Linked DNA regions of Homo sapiens. The protein of the gene in region 2 interacts with the protein of the main gene of each other region in a pairwise test. Each region holds a gene or a part of one and is shown on either strand. Other genes may lie near its edges. The genes, in order: C18orf54, MAGOHB and MID2.

Evidence for each region.
Region 1: the proteins of MAGOHB (region 2) and C18orf54 interact in binary tests that used the Homo sapiens proteins (3 or more experiments, as listed by UniProt).
Region 3: the proteins of MAGOHB (region 2) and MID2 interact in binary tests that used the Homo sapiens proteins (3 or more experiments, as listed by UniProt).

The regions. Positions count from the first base shown.
Region 1 is NC_000018.10:54,371,323-54,374,985, forward strand, and holds part of C18orf54 (lung adenoma susceptibility protein 2), read left to right. Parts: intron 1-1,143; coding exon 1,144-1,275; intron 1,276-2,891; coding exon 2,892-2,962; intron 2,963-3,663. UniProt on the Homo sapiens protein: Might play a role in cell proliferation.
Region 2 is NC_000012.12:10,603,580-10,607,201, reverse strand, and holds the end of MAGOHB (protein mago nashi homolog 2), read left to right. Parts: intron 1-827; coding exon 828-927; 3' UTR 928-3,009; downstream 3,010-3,622. UniProt on the Homo sapiens protein: Required for pre-mRNA splicing as component of the spliceosome. Plays a redundant role with MAGOH in the exon junction complex and in the nonsense-mediated decay (NMD) pathway.
Region 3 is NC_000023.11:107,929,398-107,932,196, forward strand, and holds the end of MID2 (probable E3 ubiquitin-protein ligase MID2), read left to right. Parts: 3' UTR 1-2,240; downstream 2,241-2,799. UniProt on the Homo sapiens protein: E3 ubiquitin ligase that plays a role in microtubule stabilization. Mediates the 'Lys-48'-linked polyubiquitination of LRRK2 to drive its localization to microtubules and its proteasomal degradation in neurons.

The DNA.
Region 1 (3,663 bases), on a different chromosome or scaffold from region 2:
CTTTTCTTTTTAGATTGAACAGTTTTCCATTGTATGTATGTACCACATTTTGTTTATTCATTCATCTGTTGTTGGACTCTTGGGTTATCTGCATCTTTTGGCTGTTGTGAATAATTTTGTTGTGAACATGGGTATACAAATATCTACCCAAGTCCCTGTTTTCACTTCTTTTGGATATATACCTAAGAGGGAAATTGCAGGATCATTCAGTAATTCTATGTTTAATTTCTTGTGGAATTCCTATACTGTTTTCTACAATGGCTATAGCATTTTACCTTTCCGCTCCATTTCTTATATCCTGTTCTATAACTGTGGAAGTGTCTTTAAAATCTTTTTAACCATACTGCTTACCTTGAGTATATTATGCTAATCAACAACTTTCTATAGAATTGAAGTTTAAGTAGTACTTATGGTGCACAGTCTATGCTGAAATATATTAAATTACAGACATCTGTACAGTCCTATTTGTTACTTGGTAGATAGCTGTTAGGACACAGAAACTCATTTGAAAGATGTAAAATAATAGACTGGTAAGACTTTTAAAAAGAAATTTTAAAATATCCCTCACCGATTATCTTAAAAGAATCCTGACCATCTTATGTGTCTTAAGTACTGCTGCGTTCTTTGAACACAAATAAGTCCAGGGGTAATCGAGCTATGAGTGTTATTTAGGTAGAAGGAATGTATGGCCCATGAAGAGGTGAAAAGCTAGCATTCTGTTATAAAAACATATTTTAAAGTGTGCAGAGAATACTGTATTTGAAATTTTAGTCCTTGATCAGCTGTAAAGAACATGTTGGTTTACCTGTCCTCTGAAGACCTTTCATTTCATTTACAATTTGTGATTTTAAATGTGCGAAATTAATTTGTCATAAATATAAACGTGCACTATTTATTTCAAAACAGCAATGACTAGAAAGGATATGCCAAACTGTTAATCATGATTGTCTTTAAGTAACTTCACCTGGGGCCTGGGGATGGGGAAGTGGTGAGTTACAATTTTGATTTTTTAAAATACTTTATTGACATACATTGTTTGGAGTTTTACATTAATTTTCTATTGGGGAAATTAATACAAAATAAAACTCTTCTTTCCCTGAGCTTGGATGGTTAACTTTATACTATCATCTGTTTTAACCTTAGAGCTGTACTCTCTCTGGAGGCAAACATCATGGTCCTGTTGAAGCCCTGAAACAAATGTTATTTAACCTTCAAGCAGTACAAGAACGTTTTAATCAAAATAAGACCACAGATCCAAAAGAAGAGATTAAACAAGTAAGCACAAACATGATTTATGAATTGAGATTTGTGAATTTGTATAAAGATTTTTTTCTACATCTTTTAATAGACCTACTTATAGTTTTATGTTAGTAAGCATGCCACATTACACATGTTGTAAGTGGCAGTAGTTTTTTTTTGTTAGGAAGTAATGTACTCACGTTTAATTCTGTTTGATTTCTGTAGGTGTTTATCTCTAAACAGATTGTTCTATTATGGTTATAAATCCAACATCTTATTTAGTTATGATGGTGTTACAACTATAGTATCAAAGGGTTGTAAGAGTTTTGTAATCCTCTACAAAATTAATCTATGTGGCCCATCTTCTGGTAGTTATATTCGAGGAGGCCTAGAAAACTTTTTCAACATTAGATTCCTTCACACACCTTTCTCCTTTGAAATTTAATTTTGTTACTGTGTGTTCATTGGCTGTTATGAATACAGTTATATCAAGTTTTATTTTAGAGCCATTTTATTTTTTCAATTTGTGTATTTCCCGGGAATTTGAAAATCTGTTTCTGTTTTAGGCTGCCATTCTATATGATGAATTTTTTCCCACAAAAGTATAGTGTTTAAGAACATAGAGTTTATATTTTCCCAAATATGATTGTGAATTCTGTCACTTACTAGCAAGTGCAATATTTGTGCAAATCATTTAACCTCTTTAGTTTCAGTTTCCTATTTAAAAAATTATTGATTTTTAATTGACAATATATATATATTTTGGGTGTACAACATGATGTTTTGAAACATCATGAAATGGCTAAGGGAGCTAATTACCTCACATACTTTTTGTGGAGAACATGTAAAACCTGCTCCATTAGTAATTTTCAAGTATACGATATGTTGTTTTTAATTTTAGTCACCATGTTGTACAATAGATCTCTTGACCTTATTCTTCTCGCCTAACTAAAATGTTGTATCCTTTGAAAAACATCTCTGCAACTCCCGTCCCCACATCCAGATTCTACATATAAGTGAGATTATTATTCAGTGTCTGTCTTTCTGTGCTGGGCTTATTTCATTTATCAATTTCCTTTTCTGTATAGTGAGGTTGTTGAGAAGACAAATTGAGACAAACTATATAAAGTACTTAGTATAGTGCTTGGTACATGGTAAGTGCTCAATAAATGATGGCTCATTGTTTTATTGTTATTCAGTAGATCTGTGAAATTGAGTTTTCATTACAAGTGAGTGGATCAGCTTTTGAGAACCTTCATAGTCTGCTCATTTGAGTTGTATTTCTTAATTTCTGTCCTTACATTCTAATAATCATAACATTAATATGTAGAATGTAATCTATCTTTCTTTCCCCTCTCATTCTAAACATCATTGAGATATAAGCCTGTTCAATAAAGTCATAATTTTAAGCGAAGACTTGATTTTTAATGGACATATGTGTAGAAGTATACTTTAGGACAGTTGAAAAATGGCTGTTAGTTGTAGTGTTTTTACAGTAAATGGAAAATAAAAATATTTAATACTCTTGAAAATTAGAATTGTTTGGAAATGTAGAAAATATTTTTTAATGTTTTAATCACATTTTCAATACCATTTAATTTTGTAGTTATATAATTTTAATATTTTGTTATATTTGGTGTTTTTAATAATAGGTTTCAGAAGATGATTTCTCTAAATTACAGTTGAAGGAAAGTATGATTCCTATTACTAGGTCACTTCAGAAGTAAGTATTCTTTACTAATATGGATACAAATCCATCTTAGCCATTTCTTTGACATATGTAAAGTTACAGGGTAGAAGTAAGTAGTTTTAAGAGTAGCACTACTAGGCATATTTAAGCTTCTTGGAGCACACTGTTTACACTAAAAAACATTGTTTTCTTTTAAACTTGTGCTTTTTCCTATTCAAAGTGTTCTAAGGACCTAATGAGATAGCCTTAGACCTCTAAAATATAATGGATATGACTCATTTTTGAGTAGTAATAGCAACAATTTATGATAGTATTTTTGTGAGTATCCTATAACAGTAACTTGTATGAAATGTGTTTTCATATATTCTCTCTAGAATAAATTTAATAATAAATGGATCGTGATTTGGAACATCATTACAGAAATCTAAAGTAGATATAATGACCTGGATATAAAGATAGGTCTAATTTTCTTAGTTACAGTGTCTTAAATAATAAAATGGAGAAAAATACAAGTTGTTTCTATAGTCATGATATTGACAGAAGAGAAGGGTATTTATTTTGGAGTTTGTTGTGTGACTATGAAGTGTCCTCAGAAGATGGAATACTGAACTTAGGAAATACTGAGATTAAAAGTTTCTACTCTAGTCACACCATTTCACTTGGCTACCTTTTGTACTTTGAGAATTTGCTTAGGCTTCTGTGATCTAAGGAACTGGTGGAAAATAAAACACTAG
Region 2 (3,622 bases):
CCTGCACATAATAGATGCTTTCAATAAATATTTGTTAGTGGAAAGGAGAAAGGAATGAATGCATGATAACTATTGGACGCAAAATCTGTGTTCACAAAGACCATCCAAATGCTTTTAAACTATCAAATTTCTTTTCCTACATTTGGTAAGGGTGTGGCATTGATACCCTACTGGGATTATAAATTGGTAATGGTTTTTGGAAAGCAGTTTGGTAATATGCATCAAAAACTGTTGACATTTTTCATTCACCTTTGGCCTAGTAATTTCATTTCTGAGCATCTCTTCTATGGAACTATTCCTAAATATTGGAAAAGCTTTATTATGCATGAAGATGCTCATTGAAGTATTATTTATAATAGGAAATTAACCCCAGTGTCTAACAAGGAGAGAATTATTAAATTAATTAAAAATTACTAGGGAATTTTTTTTTTTTAATGCTGTGGGGAAAGTAATGTAAAAAAGGGCACAAGGAATAATTTTAGTTATTAAAAAATAGAGAAACATCAAAATGTTTATAGTTATTCTATGAAATGGTAGCATTACAGTATTATTTTTTTCTGCTTTATTAGACATTTTTATGATGTGGTTATTACAATCATAAGGATATGAACTCTTTAAATACTAAAATGAATACTGATGAAGAAACTATTTTTTCGTATAGAAAAGATATTAATTGTATGTTCATTTTAGTTGTCAGCAAAATCCTTCCTTTCTCCTAAATTTTGTTAACTTAATTGTTATGAGATTTTGATTTGTTTTGTTTTAGGCATTTAAAGAATTGTTTTATCCTAGGAAGAAAAAGTAACTTTTACCTTTTTAAATTTTAGGGATCCTGAAGGCCTTCGAGTATTTTACTATTTGGTACAAGACTTGAAATGTTTAGTTTTCAGTCTTATTGGATTACACTTCAAGATTAAACCAATTTAAATTGTATGTTTTCAGGCTGTTTGTATATTTAATTAAGGGATGGGAGGGGTTATTTGTCATTTACAGTATTGGGGTTTTTATGAATGTGAAGCAAACAAAAAAAATTTGTATGTAAACTGAAAATAAGAAAATACATTAGCAAGCTTAATGGTTATCCTTACTTGAGTCCATATGGGTTGGACAGTCCCCACACACATTAAATTCTGTAAATGAAAGCCACCTTTTGTTAAAAATTTGCTCTAATAAAACATACCAAATCCTGGTTGCAGAGTAGTTTTTTGTTTTTTCCAGGAGGCTATGTCTCTAATTCACTTTAGAGATAATAAGAAATTGTTCTGGTAGATATATCCTGTGACAGAAGATACTTTAGGTGGAACTATGTAGCCAGATTCCCATCCATGAAAGGCAAGTGTAGATTGTCCCTTATTTCCTTCATACATGATTGGATTTAATTTTGGGGGGCTTATACAAGGTCTAGTTTTTTTTTACAGTTATGACAAACCCCTCAGGGATTATTCACATTTAAATATTTTCAGTTATAAGCAGTGAGGTCCTAAAGTGTTACAAGAGTACAGTCTACCCCATGTTAGGCATATCTTTGATTATGTCTTTATTCCTTATTTCACAATGTATTTGGTGTGTAGGGGAGGGGGGAGAACTAAATGAGTTTTCAGCTTTATAAATTGTTAAACATTTAGACAAACATATATGTATGTATGAATGTACATAAATATTTTTAACTCCTATTGACCACGAGTCTCACTTCAGTTTCCCAGTTCCTTTCAACCTCTTTCTGATAGATTTCCTCTTTCATTACTTTTAGTAACCATGTTCCTTGTTTCCTTTTATTCTTCCATCTGAAGCCCCACTCTTAAAAAGTTGCACTGTTCCAGTAGTTATAATCCACTTGCCCTAGGAACAAGTTAGCACTGAATTTTGGGTGGAATAATTAGTTTCTGAAGGCTTGCCAGGACTCCTGAGCAGGTAGGCTCTAGAGTCGGGCAGTCCAATAACTTTTTTGCAATAATGGAAACGTTCTATGTGCAGTCCAATAGGGTAGCAACTGGCCAAATGAGGCCTACTGATTACTTGAGGTGTGCCTTGTATAACTGAATTTATGGTGCTATTTAAACAATTTTTTTCTAACGTGAAAAGGATAAAACATTAAAAACTCTTGAGAACTATAAAGTGAACACCTATATGCCTACCCCTACCTAGATTCTATACTTAACATCTTTTTTACTGTAATATCTCTATTATAATAAATCTTGGTTTTTCACTTAACTGGTGTAATTGGTGCCAATAAACTACTTTTTTTGTAGTGCTATTTAATTTTGATTAAATTTAGGTAGCCACGTGTCTAGCGGCTACCGTTTGGACAGTATAGCTCTAGAGCATGGCTTGGTAACCTGTTTGCCATGGAGCACTAGATGGTCCTTTTCACTCCTCAAAATGCATGCCCATTGTCTTCAGGTTTGCCATGGAAAGTCAAATGATTTCCACTTCATTATGCAAGTACGCTATCATCTTCAGGTCTTTTGTATGTAAAATGTTTCTGTTCCAGTTGTAGACCTTGATGATTGTGCAGTATGAAATCGTATTGTAATTTTCTTGCATTTAGATGTCAACCTCAGAAACAGGAACAATCGTCTTTTGAACTTCCAGTAGGCCCACAGTTGTTGGTTGTTCCTCAAAACAGGTTGTGGCTCCTGTTGAATAAGATGATCCATTAAAAACTGAACAAGGTTGAGGAGAAATAGTGCTTACGTTGAAAAATCTTTAAGTCTTTGTCCCCGTTCTCTAACTTCCTTACGTTTTCGTTTATTTAGCTCTATCCCCACTATCTACTAGAATTTCTCATATTTAAACCAAGATGGGAGACTAGGTCATTAGGAAAATATTACCGTCTACAATTTTCTTATACTTTGATCTGTCTTTTATTTGATTGTAAGTTGCTGATGGACAGTGATCATTAGAAACTGAATTTTGTATAATACTAGTTTTATATGAAACTAGATTTTTATTGCGCTCAGGTTATGTTCCTTTTACCTCCTTCCTTAATAAAGAGACCACTTGAAATAATCAGACTTTTTCCAAGTACTGTCTGCACCTCATCCCACCTCTTCCCCATTCATGAGATAGTGCAGAACCCTAGCACAGTCTTTTCCATATAGTAGGTGTTTTTTAAGTTTGTTGAATTGGTTGCTGTCTTGCTCTGTCCTTAGATTATTTGCCTTTAGATTATTTATCTTTGGTATTTCATTGGTATCAGGCTGAGTCTATTTGTATGGATATTTTTAATGTAAATATTAATGTAACTGAGATGATTTATATATTCTATTGTTAGACTACTTCGTTTTGATTTGAAATGTGTGAACCTATGAGCATGGACTGTGCTGTAAGTTTAACCACTGACCCCTTTAATTAATAACTGGATTCCTAGCATGAATGGATAATGAAGTCGAATAGAAAATTTTAAAAATTTAATAAACAACAAAGGTAAATGAAGGATTTGAGGGTGAGTTCAGAATCTGCCTTGGCTGACTTCCGTATGATGATCAGTAAAGTTGGATAACTACCACTCAAAATCTCTGGCATCTACCTTGTCCTAATTTGAACTGTGTGATGTGGTGGAGAGAATACTAATTTAAGAATCAGAAGTCTTAATTACAGATCAGCTTAACTATTTTCTCTT
Region 3 (2,799 bases), on a different chromosome or scaffold from region 2:
TGCTTACACAGCTTAATCTTTTGCCACTTTCCCCCTCACATTGATTAAGGTAGCCAAGTTTAACTATTTACACAACTATTCACACAAGTTATTCTCTGGGCCTGCAGCAGAAACATGATTAACAATTTTAATGCCCAGAGTAAACAACAGAAATTTTTCTTAAATTAAAGGAATAGTGTGAAAATGCTGTAAGTACAGAAAATGCAACCTCCATTCCAGTAGAACAATTTCCTTTGCCTTGTCCTTGGCTCTCCAAAACTGTTCATTTATTGTGGTGTCTTTTAGATTTTAGTGCCCTGGGACAAAGATCTAATTTCCCCACCCTACTTTTGACTCTATCCTGGACTACCTTTCCTCACCTCTATCTCTCTCAACCAGACTAACTCTTTATTCCTTAGACTTGATGATGCATCCCTCTTTAGAGATCCAAAGACACCCCAAGCATCCCCCTCTCTCAGCAATAATCACATTGTATAGCAGTGTTTTTCAAAGTGTGGTCCTCACACCGCCTGTGTTAGAATCACCTTTAGTGTTTGTTAAAAGAATTGATTTTGGGTTCCCACTCCTGACCTAACCAGAATATCTGAGAACATAGGCAGGAATTTACATTTTTGACAAGCTCCTCATGATTCTGATGCACCAAAAATTTTAATGAATAATCATCTTCCCTACTAGACTGAACACCTTGAGAGGAAGGACTGTGTCTTTTATTGTTGTTATATTGTTAATACCTGGCACAGTGCTTGGAACATTAGCTTGGCTAATGTTTATTGAATGAATGTATGAATGAAAAAATGCATTATGAAAGTTTCCTCTTGTACTCTCATGTTCGTAGTGATGTTTGTTACTTCCTGGGCAGAAAAGCTTGGTTACTACTCCATTTGAGCTGTATTAATTCTATTTTGCAGAGATATCAAGGCTCCTACATAATAAATGATCATTGTCCTCCTCAAAAACTCTTTGGCAGTTATCTTGGGGAAATGTCTTTGGAGCATATGGCACCATTGTTTTCAGTAACATTTCAGTCTTGTCAAACTTTGTTGTTTGAAGGTGGATTTACATTTCGGTTATAGCCAAAAATCACTCAAAGCTAAGCCTACTTAAAAAAGTGGGGAATTAAACTGGGTTTGGAGTAAGCAATGAAGTTTGACTCTGAAGTCCCAAATTCTGAGTCAAACAGTGAAAAATGACTTCTAAGATACAACATGGTGACAAAGTACTTAGTGGGGGTGCGATGGGCCCCAGATATTTACTTCAGTTAACTTGGCTTTTATAGAATCCTGGCAATGCCATGGACCTTAAGAGAAGTAATTGGCTACCTCTAGCTAAACCCAGCTGGACAAAGAGAATAGGACTTGTATTTAACATTTTCAAAGAAGGTGACTGCATAAGCTTTTGTTGTTGTTGCTCTACTCAACCTGTTCTCCACAACTGTTTCTACCAGAAGATTATTTTATGTCTGCAATTTATGCTTGTTTCCACTTTTTATATTGTCTTATTGAAGAAAGCACAAAAATAATCAAAAATAAAGTAAAACCTGTTTTGAGAGTATGAAAGAAATTTTAATGCCACATTGAGGTTCTGGCTACTTGTAAGTAAGAGTAACTGCATCTGGATGTGTTTTTATTATACAATTCTATGTGTATCTTTAGATGCAGTGAAATTCAGATTGCAGCAAAATCACTTATCTGTTCTTTTCGGCTAAAACACTCTAGGTGAATTTTCTAAACTTCCATGGTTTACATATTTATATATGACTACCAAGATGGAGCAATCCACGGATGGACTTTTGAATAAACTCAAATATTTGATACTGCTTCCTCCAAGGAATGGAGAGTGTCAGGCAGGTAGGTAAGAACCACTCCTACACTTATTTCTAGCTCCTGAAGCCAACTGCAGCCTTGGAGCCAATGGCTGTATTTGGCTGTGTGTTACAGGTTGGCCAAACTGATTGCCATCAGGTCAGACAAAACTGCCTTTTATGGTGTAGTCTGCCAGCTTCAGACATATGCTGTATTGTTGTTATTGGCTAGACTATTTATTAGACTATTGTTGGACTATTTTTTATCAAATGCTTTACCCCACGCCTGTTTGTATTGGGAGCTCTGGACCAATAGTGTCTCTCCTAGTGACAGAAATATGAGCATCTGTGGATTACACAGCCTCATCCCTCTCTACAATATTCCAGCCCATCCAAAATGCTATATTATGAATTAAATAAATATATATGTATTCATGAATTCTTTGTTGTCTCTCGCTGGAGTTGAATTGGGGGAGGACTAAAAGGAAGATGGCCGTGGATTCTCCTGGAATTGGGTAAGTGACTAGGGGAAACCAAGGATCATATAATAGGTAGTGATCTGGACAGAAAGGACCCAGGGGGTCTGGAGCTCAAAATCCAATCAAGAAGACTTTGATTTCAGGAGCATGATATGGTCAAGAAGACCAAAGAAATGAAGATATAGGGTTCAAGGAAACATGACACATTCAGTTTTAGAGATTGGAGCAGAAGTTGAGAATTAAAGAACAAATAAAATCCCAGTGCTGGAACCCATTGATTAAGATTAGGGTAGCACCAGAAGCAAGTGAGCTGACTTACTGTTAAAACAGCTGGCCTGCAGGAGGAGACTGGGAGGAAGCCAGGAGGTCCCTCAGGGCTAGAATTGGGCATATCTTAATCAGATTTGTAGTGGCACTAAGACTAAAAGGGATCATGCGATATGAAGTGAATGAAGCAGGGCAGTCAAGGGCGGCAGCTAGAGAAGTGACTTGAAACAGGTCATCAGACCAGGGGCCTAT